2 separate regions of the Homo sapiens genome follow, and region 2 is linked to region 1. Evidence: fine-mapped expression QTL. A gene starts in region 1. The other region holds a variant in brackets. All regions are shown on one strand. Distances are from middle to middle. Region 1 holds the start of PELP1 (proline, glutamate and leucine rich protein 1). Region 2 has its middle 17 kb from the start of UBE2G1.

The links. PIP is the estimated chance that this variant, and not a neighbour inherited with it, causes the effect.
Region 2: its variant is fine-mapped to the expression of PELP1 in whole blood (TwinsUK, PIP 0.95).

What each region holds. Positions count from the first base shown.
Region 1 is chr17:4,701,980-4,707,280 of GRCh38, reverse strand. PELP1 (proline, glutamate and leucine rich protein 1) reads left to right here and starts at 3,144. Exons shown (of 17, transcript NM_014389.3): 1 at 3,144-3,418. The coding sequence starts at 3,170. PELP1-DT (PELP1 divergent transcript) reads right to left here and starts at 3,051. Exons shown (of 2, transcript NR_103482.1): 1 at 2,911-3,051; 2 at 1,752-2,082. It also overlaps the pseudogene RPS12P29.
Region 2 is chr17:4,381,308-4,386,682 of GRCh38, reverse strand. No RefSeq gene overlaps it. Among named protein-coding and RNA genes, the nearest start is that of UBE2G1, 17 kb to the right of the region's middle. RefSeq lists an enhancer at 3,400-3,899. The variant G/A (reference allele first, on the strand shown) is at 2,667.

The DNA.
Region 1 (5,301 bases):
AGCCTGAGTGAGAATAGTGAAACTTCGTCTCAAAAACAAACGGGCCGCGCGTGGTGGCTCACGCCTGTAATCCCAGCACTTTGGGAGGCTGAGGTGGGCGGATCACGAGGTCAGGAGATCAAGACCATCCTGGCTAACGTGGTGAAACCCTGTCTCCACAAAAAAGTACAAAAAATTAGCCGGCATGGTGGCAGGCGCCTGTAGTCCCAGCTACTTGGGAGGCTGAGGCAGGAGAATGGCCTGAACCTGGGAGGCAGAGCTTGCAGTGAGCCAAGATCGCGCCACTGCACTCCAGCCTGGGTGACAGTGCGAAACTCCATCTCGAGGAAAAAAGAAAACAAAAAACCTCCGAAAAACGAAAAATGAGCCAAATATAGTGGCTAGTGCCTAGAGTCTCATGTACTAGGGAGGCTGAGGTGGGAGGATCGTTTGAGCTGGGAGGTCAAGGCTGCAGTGAGCTGTGATCATGCCACTGCACTCCAGCCTGGGGAAATATTTTTTCAGCACCTTTTATGTACCAGGCACTGTTCTAGGTGATAGGAATAGCATAGTGTAGGAGACAGGAGCCCTTTCATGGAGTTTGTATTTTAGACAAGAGATAGTTAATAAGAAAGCAAATTTCTGGTAATGACATGAATTATAAACAGGCAAATGTGATGGAGGCTGATGGGGGTTGGAGTGGGAGCTACCGAAAAAGAAGTCGTCTCAGGATGGCAAAATGGCGTTAGTTACATAGAATCAAAGGACAGTTTCTCCAGCATAATCAGCAACATGTGCAAAGGTTCGGATGTGAGAATGGGCTTTGCTGGAAAATAGAAGGCTAGCGTGGCTCAAGAATAGGAAGAGAGAAGGAAAAGGGTACTTGTGGTATGTGTTGAGGTCAGGGAGGTGGGTATGAGTCAGATTGGGTGGATTCTTTTAGGCCTCAGTGACGAGATGGGATTTCATTCTCATCACATTTGGAAGCCACAGAGGGGTTGAAGCTAGGAGTGACAACAACTTGTTTACATTTGAAAAGACCACTTTGGTTGCTGTGTGAAGGGACTACAGGGTGCTAAGAGGGAAGCAGAGAGCAACGAAGGCTTTGTAATAGACTAGGTGAGAGTGAATGGTAATTTGGACCGGAGCGGCAGTGGAGATGGAGAAAAATTAACGCTATTGGGTTAATGTATTTTGGAGGCCTTGAATGCCAGGACTTGAAGGATTGGATAGGAGGCAATAAGAGGAAAAACGGGCCAGGTGGGGTGGCTCACACCTGTAATCCCAGGACTTTGGGAGGCTGAGGCCGGCAGATCACTTGAGGTCAGGAGTTTGAGACCAGCCTGGCCAACATGGTGAAGCCCCGTCTCTACTAAAAATACAAAAATTAGCTGGGCATGGTGGTGGGTGCCTGTACTTCCAGCTACTTGGGAGGCTGAGGTAGGAGAATCACTTGAACTTGGGAGGCGGAGGTTGCAGTGAGCCGAGATCGTGCCATTGCACTCTAGCCTGGGCGACAGAGAGACTCCTCAAAAAAAGAAAAATGATGACTCTTGGATTTGAATCTAACAATCACAAAAGTACACAAACATAAACATAGAGGTATTAGCGTGTTCACTACAGTTTGCATTAGCAAAAAGCTGGAGCAGCCTTTAAGCATTAATTCAGCAATAGAATTATTAAATCATGGTGCACCCATTTCATTCATACCACAGTTTAAAAAACAGCATAAAGAAGGCCATGAGTGAAAACAAGCCACACGCAGACCCCAATCTTGTAAAATATTCATTTATGTGCTTGTGCATAGACTAATATTAGGAAAGTATACACGCTACTGGGGCAGGGCTTTGCGGGGGAGGAGCAGTTTTTCTTTTTACTTTATGCCTTTCTGTACTGTTTGAATTGGCTTTTGCAAGGCGCACGTCTTGTATCATTTCTGAAGTTGCAAATGTAGTTAAAAATGTCTGTGATTTCAAGTTACCTAGAGAGTTATTGATTCCTTCTCTTTCCCTGCCGCTGCCGAGTTGCGCGGAGGCGGAGGCTTGGGTACCTTCAAGATTCAGCTTCACTTGTAACCCACCGCCACGGCCGAGGAAGGCATTGCTGCTGGAGGGGTAATGGATGTTAATACTGCTTCACAAGAGGTGCTGAAGACCGCTCTCATCCACCATGACCTAGCACGTGGAATTCGCGAAGCTGCCAAAGCCTTAGACAAACGCCAAGCCCATCTTTGTGTGCTTGCATCCAACTATGATGAGCCTACTATGTATGTCAAGTTGGTGGAGGCCTTTGTGCTGAACACCAAATCAACCTAATTAAGGTTGATGACAACAAGAAACTAGGAGAATGGGTAGGGCTCTGTAAAAATCGACAGAGAGGGGAAACCCCGTAAAGTGGTTGGTTGCAGTTGTGTAGTAGTTAAGGACTATGGCAAGGAGTCTCAGGCCAAGGATGACATCGAAGAGTACTTGAAATGCAAGAAATGAAGAAATAAATCTTTGGCGCGCGTACACACACACACACGTTACTGATTCCTAGGCAGGGTGCGGTGGCTCATGCCTGTAATCTCAGCACTTTGGGAGGCCAAGGCGGGCGGAACACCTGAGGTCAGGAGTTCAAGACCATCCTGGCCAACATGGTGAAACCCCATCTCTACAAAAATACAAAAAAAATTAGCCGGGCGTGGTGGCGCGCGACTGTAATCCCATCTACTCGGGAGGCTGAGGCAGGGAAATCGCTTGAACCTGGAAGGTGGAGGTTGCGGTGAGCCGAGATCGCGCCACTGCACTCCAGCCTGGGCCACAGAGCGAGACTCCGTCTCAAAAAAAAAAAATGAGAGTTATTGATTCCTACAGCGAAGATGTCCCAAGACTCCGTCCGCTAAATGGAAATCGTTCCGACTTTGGCGCCTTTTGTCCGGACCACGTGTACCTTTAACATCACAGGACCGCCTCGGACACGCTCACAGGCAGCCTCATCCGCCATCACTCCGGGAACCGAGCACCCCGCTGCCTCGGCGCCCAGGCTGCTCTCTCCGCGCATGCTCCTTCCCAGCTTGAGCCCGCGAGTCCAGCCTGCCTTCACTCAGTGCGCAAGACCGCAGCCCCCTCCCCACGCCCCCTCCCCAGTAGGCGGCCGTCGCGGTGTGTTTGCGTCATCGCGCCACGCCACCACTGGAACCCGGGGGAAGATGGCGGCAGCCGTTCTGAGTGGGCCCTCTGCGGGCTCCGCGGCTGGGGTTCCTGGCGGGACCGGGGGTCTCTCGGCAGTGAGCTCGGGCCCGCGGCTCCGCCTGCTGCTGCTGGAGAGTGTTTCTGGTTTGCTGCAACCTCGAACGGGGTCTGCCGTTGCTCCGGTGCATCCCCCAAACCGCTCGGCCCCACATTTGCCCGGGCTCATGTGCCTATTGCGGCTGCATGGGTCGGTGGGCGGGGCCCAGGTGAGTCCGTGGCCCGCGTGCCCGCGGCCCTGTGGGGAGGATGGCGCGGCACCTGTGCGCCGGGATTACGGTGCAGTGCAAGTGCGATAGGGAGGTTGAAGGAAGGAGAGCTGCGGGCAGAAAGGGGATCCAGGTATCAGTCCGGACGGGATGCACGTATTTCTCCTTTATCGGCCATGAGTTTCTCCAGGGGAAAAATGGGCCTTATTTTTCTGTTGTTAGGCTATTGGTCGGCACACAGGAATCGATTAGGTTCCAGGCCCGGTCACTCACTAGTTGTATAATCTAAAAGTCTCTTTTTCCTCTGGCAATATCTGTTTCGGGGATTGTTTCGACTGACTGAATGACGCATTCAACAATAAACATTTACCGAGCTCTTATTGAGGGTCAGATACTGTACTAGGCGCTCCGGTTACAGACGTGGTGGCGATACACAAAATGCTGCGAAACAAGATGAGAATTGAATATCAGGGGTCTCTAACCTTATCTGAAGACTGGCAGAGATTTTTCCAAAGAAACCGGCGTTTAAGCTGAGACCCTAAGGATGAATAGGGGTTGGGTAGGGAAAAAATATGGGAGGGGCTGTTCAGTCAGAGGAGAGCTCATGTGGGAAGACCCTGTGGTAGGAAGGAACTGGAAAGAAGGGCATCGTTCCTGGGGCTCAGATGTGGAGGGGAAGAGAGTGGGTACAGATGAGACTGGTGAGATGGGTAGGCAGTGGTCGGGTCATGCAGAGCGTTTTAGGCCGGGTTAGGAGCCTTTGGACTTCTATAAGAATGGAATCTGATAACCATTCAGTTCTGCAAGCTAGACACTCAAGTAATTCTAAACTCTTCTTCATACACCTCCATAAGCAATCTGTCAAGTCCTGTTGATTTTATCCTTTGAGTAGTTTTCAGATCTGTCCACTCTTTTCCATCTTTCTCATTGCTCCCATTCTAGCTTGAACCCCCACCATCTTGTCCGGGTGAAGGCACTGATTCTAAGAAGGCATATTTCTAGCCCATAATAGCTGCTCCTTATAACAATCTCCTATCTTCCCTTCTCTCCCACTAAACCTCCCCCAAATTCTACCCATCCTTCAAGACCCATAAACACGAGATCTTCTGTGTCCACCCTTCATTCCTGGGACCTTCCTAGCTCTATGCTACCTTCCAGGAAGATGGTTGTCACAATTTGCTGGGTGGGTCAATAACCTTAGCCCCAGATTTATCACAGATAACCCTATCTGTTTGTCTTTAACATTACTCTGCATAATTGAGGGTGACAAAACTATATCTCTGCTATCTCAGCCCAATATCAGAGGCTGGAGCTGATTATGTATTTTCTCTTGTCTCTAAATTCCCCTCTTCTAATTTATGTGGTTTTCATCAGTCAGTTATATTACAGTGGGGTTTTTCTGTTTTCTTTATCTCACAATAGTCCCAGAATTATTATTATTTTTGAGACAAGGTCTTACTCTGTCACCCAGGTTGGAGTGCAGTGGCATGATCTTGGCTCACTGCAACCTCCATTTCCCAGCCTCAAGGGATCCTCCCACCTCAGCCTCCAGAGTAGCTGGGACCACAGGCATGCGCCACCATGCCCGGCTAATTTTTGTATTTTTGGTAGAGACGGGGTTTTGCCATGTTGCCCAGGCTGGTCTCAAAGTCCCGAGTTCAGGCGATTCACTTGCCTTGGCTTCCCAAAGTGCTGGAATTACAGGCACGGGCCACCATGCCTTGCCCCCCAGAAATTTTTTTTATAAGTATTTGTGAAATATTACCTATCCCGCCTATAAATGTGTGATTTCTTTCATCATCTCTTTCAGGACTTCCTCTCCTCCCTCAAAGTCAACTACATGAACTTAACGTCTTGCTTATTTTTCTTACATGTCTGAAGTC
Region 2 (5,375 bases), 320 kb after region 1:
ATGGAAGCCTCATAATTGTCACGGAACTTAGCTACAACAACAGAATCTACTCTAACTAGTTTAAGCAGCCAAGGAATGTATTTAAAGATATAAATGACTCACACAGTCTCTGAGAGGGATAGAGAATTGGGCTTGGAGGCTACTTGGCCAGGAACAATACCCAAATTTTGCTCCTGGACTGTTATCAGCACAGCCTCTGCTTTTTGCCATCAATAGCCACTGCAGCTCAAAAGTGGAAGGAGTATCTCTACTCCTGGGGCCTCCACTCCCACTGCCCTCAAAAGCTCTGTGTCAGCCAGGCACGGTGCCTCACGCCGGTAATCCCAGCACTTTGGGAGGCCGAGGCAGGTGGATCACAAGATCAGGAAATTCAGACCGTCCTGCCTAACACAGTGAAACTCCGTCTCTACTAAAAATACAAAAAATTAGCCAGGCGTGCTGGTGGGCACCTGTAGTCCCAGCTACTTGGGAGGCTGAGGTAGGAGAATCGCATGGACCCAGGAGGCGGAGGTTGCAGTGAGCCGAGATCGTGCCACTGCACTCTAGCCTGGGTGATAGAGACTCTGTCTGAAAACAAACAAAATAAACAAACAAAAAAATCTCCGTGTCTCTACAGCATTCTCATCCTCGTACAGCTCACCTCTGAATGGATATCAGCTGCATCTGATTGGATGAGCCTACACTGTATGCCTGAGTGCTAGGGAAGCTAGGTACAGGAGTCTAGCTTCTACCTTGGGGAGGCAGAACTCATCATGTCTTGACATAGAATGGGTTTTCAAAAAGATTCTGAATGGCCAGGCGCGGTGTCTCACACCTGTAATCCCAGCACTTTGGGAGGCAGAGGCGGGCTGATCACTTGAGGCCAGGAGTTTGAGACCAGCCTGGCCAATGTGGTGAAAACCCATCTCTACTAAAAATACAAAAATTAGCTGGGCGTGGTGGCACACACCTGTAATCCCAGTTACTCGGGAGGCTGAGGCAAGAGAATCCCTTGAACCCAGGAGGCGGAGGTTGCAGTGAGCCGAGATCGGACTACTGCACACCAGCCTGGGCAACAGACAGAAACTGTCTCAAAAAAAAAAAAAAAAAAAAGATGCTGGGTGATGATAATATTAAAAAGGTCCACTATAAACCCTATTAGAGACTATCCCAGCCTGGGCAACATGGAGAACTCCATCTCTACAAAAAAGACAACATTTAGCCAGGTGTGGTGGCAAGTGCCTATAGTCCCAGCTACTTGGGGGACTGAGGCTAGAGAATTGCTTGAACCCCGGGGGGTCGAGGCTGCAGTGAACTATGTTCCTGCCACAGCACTCCAGCCTGAGTAACAGAGTGAGACCCTGTCTCAAAACAAAACAGAGAAAACAAAAAAAGAAAGAAAAACTAGGAAACAAAGAAAAATCAGAATGATGTACCTCTTAATGGAAGTACCCAATACTGCATATGAAAGAGTCTAGGAACAAAATCAACCCCAAAGGTGATCAAGCTGCTAGATCCGACTACTGCTTTACACGAAATAAAGAAAATAAGAATGTTAAATGATACCATGAGGACACAATCAGTAAAACCCAGATTTTATTTGTTTTTTTCTATTTGTTTGTTTGTTTTCTGAGATGGAGTTTCACTCATTGCCCAGACTAGAGTGCAGTGGCGCCATCTCGGCTCACTGCAACCTCCGCCTCCCGGGTTCAAATGATTCTCTTGCCTCAGCCTCCCAAGTAGCTGGGATTACAGGCATCCACCACCAAGCCTGGCTAATTTTTTGTATTTTTAGTAGAGATGGGGTTTCACCATGTTAGCCAGGCTGGTCTGGAACCCCTGACCTCGGGTGATCCGCCCACCTCGGCCTCCCAAAGTGCTGGGATTACAGGAATGAGCCAGCGCACCCGGCCTTAAATCCAGATTTTAGGAAACTGTATAGGAACACATGACAAATATTCTTTAATAAATTGCAAGGAAAACAGAAAGATTTTAGAAGAGGGAACCTAGTGATTAAAGGAAACTTAAGAGACACATTAACCAACCAAAACTTATGGATCTTTTTTATTTTTTATTTTTTGAAATGGAGTTTCGCTCTTGTTGCCCAGGCTGGAGTGAAATGGCACGATCTCGGCTCACTGCAACCTCTGCCTCCTGGGTTCAAGAGATTCTCTTGCCTCAGCTTCCCAAGTAGCTGGGATTACAGGCATCCGCCACCACGCCCGGCTAATTTTGTATTTTTAGTAGAGATGGGGTTTCTCCATGTTGGTCAGGCTGGTCTCGAACTCCCGACCTCAGGTGATCCGCCCGCCTCGGCCACCCAAAGTTCTGGGATTACAGGCATGAGCCACTGCACCTGGCCTATGGATCTTTTTCAGGTCATGATTCAAACAAACTATAAATAGAATGATGATGATGATGATGAGACAGTGGGAATATTTGAACACTGAATATTTGATGATATTAAGGAATTATTTCACACCTGTAATCCTAGCACTTTGGGAGGTCAAGGCACTTGAGCCCAGGAGTTCAAGACCAACGTGAGCAACATGGTGAAGCCCTATTTCTACAAAAAATACAAAAACTAGCCGGGTGTGGTGGCATGCACCTGTCATCCCATCTGCTTGGGAGGCAGAGGTGGGCGGATCATGAAGTCAGGCGATCAAGACCATCCTGGCTACCACGGT[G/A]AAACCCCATTTCTACTAAAAATACAAAAAATTAGCCAGGCGTGGTGGTGAGCGCCTGTGGTCCCAGCTACTCAGGAGGCTCAGGCAGGAGAATGGTGTGAACCCGAGAGGCAGAGCTTGCAGTGAGCCAAGATCGGGCCACTGCTCTCCAGCCTGGGTGACAGAGCTAGACTCCATCTCAAAAAAAAAAAAAGAAAAAAGAAAAAAAAAAAATGATCTGTTGCTTAGAAATGTTAAGTTTGGCCAGGTGTGGTGGCTCACACCTGTAATCCTAACACTTTGGGAGGCCGAGGCAGGCAGATCACTTTAGGTCAAGAGTTCAAGACCAGCCTGGGCAACATGGTGAAACCCTGTCTTTACTAAAAATACAAAAAATTAGCTGGGCATGATGGCTAGCACCTGTAATCCCAGCTACTTGGGAGGCTAAGGCAGGAGAATGGCTTGAACCTGGGAGGCGGAGGTTGCGGTGAGCTGAGATGGTGCCATTGCACTCCAGCCTGGGCAACAAGAGCGAGACTCTGTCTCAAAAAAAAAAAAAAAAAAAGAAAGAAAGAAATGTTAAATTCAGCTCCCAGGATTTTGAACCATTAAGGAATCAGCTCACAGCCTCTTCATACTCATCACACTGTGGGTTCCTTTATCCCTGTGTATCTGCATGGGCCCCTGTAAAGAATGGGCAAGGGTGGGTGTGGTGGCTCACGCTTGTAATCCCAGCACTCTGGGAAGCTAAGGCGGGTGGATCACCTGAGTTCAGGAGTTCGAGACCAGCCTGGCCAACATGGTGAAACCCCATCTCTACTAAAAATACAAAAATTAGCCAGGCATGGTGGCACACGCCTGTAGTCCCAGCTACTCAGCAGGCTGAGGCAGGAGAATTGCTTGAACCCGGGAGGTGGGAGTGGCAGTGAACCGAGATCTCACCACTGCACTCCATCCTGGGTGACAGAGTGATACTACCTCTCAAAACAAACAAACAAACAAAAAACCGCCGGGCTCTGTGGCTCACGGCTGGGCACGATGGCTCACACCTGTAATCCCAGCACTTTGGGAGGCCGAGGTGGGTGGATCACCTGAGGTTGGGTGTTCGAGACCACCCTGACCAACATGGAGAAACCCCGTCTCTACTAAAAATACAAAATTAGCTGGGTATGGTGGCCTGTAATCCTAGCTGCTCGGGAGGCTGAGGCAGGAGAACTGCTTGAACCCAGGTGGCGGAGGTTGCAGTGAACCGGAGATCGCACCATTGCACTCCTGCCTGGGTAACAAGAGCGAAAACAAAAACAAAAGAACAAAACAAAAAAACAAAAGAATGGGCAAAAGGTCTTGGGATTCCCGAAAAGGGCTGATTTGGGGTCTAGGTGAGGTGAGGTGTTAAAGGAATTTAATGTGTCAGATGATATTTGTGAGGCCATGTCATGAACCACTGTTCATGCCTATAATCCCAAAGACTTGGGAGACTGAGGCTGAAGGATCACTTGAGGCCAGGAGTTCAAGATCAGCCTGGGCAGCATAGTGAGATCCCTGGCTCTACAAAAAAAATCTAAAAATCAGCCAGGTGTGGTGGCGAATGCCTGTAGTCCCAGCTATTCCAGAGGCTGAGGTGGGAGGATCGTTTGAGCCCAGGAGGTCAAGGCTGCAGTGAGCTATGATGGTACCACTGTACTACAGCCTAGATCACAGAGTGAGATCGTGTCTCCAAAAAAAAAAAAAAAAAAAAAGACAATATTTATGTTAAGCCTTGAAGGACAAAGCAAGAAGGGAATTTCTGAGCAACTACGGCATGCCAAGTATTCTGCTGAGCCTTTGTCTGCATTTTCTCATTTAATCTTCACAGTAATCCTGTGAGGTTGTATTCCCTTTTTATTACATGACAAAACTGAATTGGCAGGCAGGAAGTGAGGCTGTCAATATTTCAGAGCCAGCCTTTAGTCTCAGCACTGCCATTTGGGGAAAGGAGACTGGTAAATTGGCAATTTCAGCACAGGTACTGTTTCTCACCAGCCAGTGCTGGGCAATCAATAAAAATCCAGAAACCTGTTAGCCCCAGCAGGGACCTACCCACTGTGCGAAGAGGAGGAGGAAACCTTGGCTGTCATCACAGCAGCCAGAAAGGGCACCACCACTCTTTGGCTTCTGCAGTCTGGGCCGACACCAAGAGTCTGGACTTTTCTGCTCACAGCATGTCTATGAACCTGGAAGAGTGGCATCAAATGCTGATGTCCTGAGCCACAGGCTCAGGGCAGTCCCAGGCTGGGGGATGCCATTCCCACATTGTGACTGCTTTTTTTTGAGACGGAGTTTTGCTCTTGTTGCCCAGGCTAGAGTGCAATGGCATGATCTCCGCTCACCGCAATCTCTACCTCCCGGGTTCAAGCAATTCTCCTGCCTCAGCCTCCTGAGTAGCTGGGACTACAGGCGCCCACCACATGTGATTGCTTTTAATCACCCTCCCGCCTTTCAGGGTCACGGATCCCAAGCCCCTTATGAGCCTTGTCTTCAGTCACCTGCTCACTGAGGCTGTCTTTTAAGCAGAAGTTGTGTTTCCTGCCCGTGTCACCCATAGCACGCCAGGAACTGTTGTCACCCTGGCCACTCTAAAGAGCTACATCTGCTTCCTTGGAGCTGTTTCTGATGATGAAAAAGTCATAAAAAGGCTGGGTGCAGTGGCTCATGCCTGTAATCCTAGCACTTTGGGAGGGCAAGGTGGGA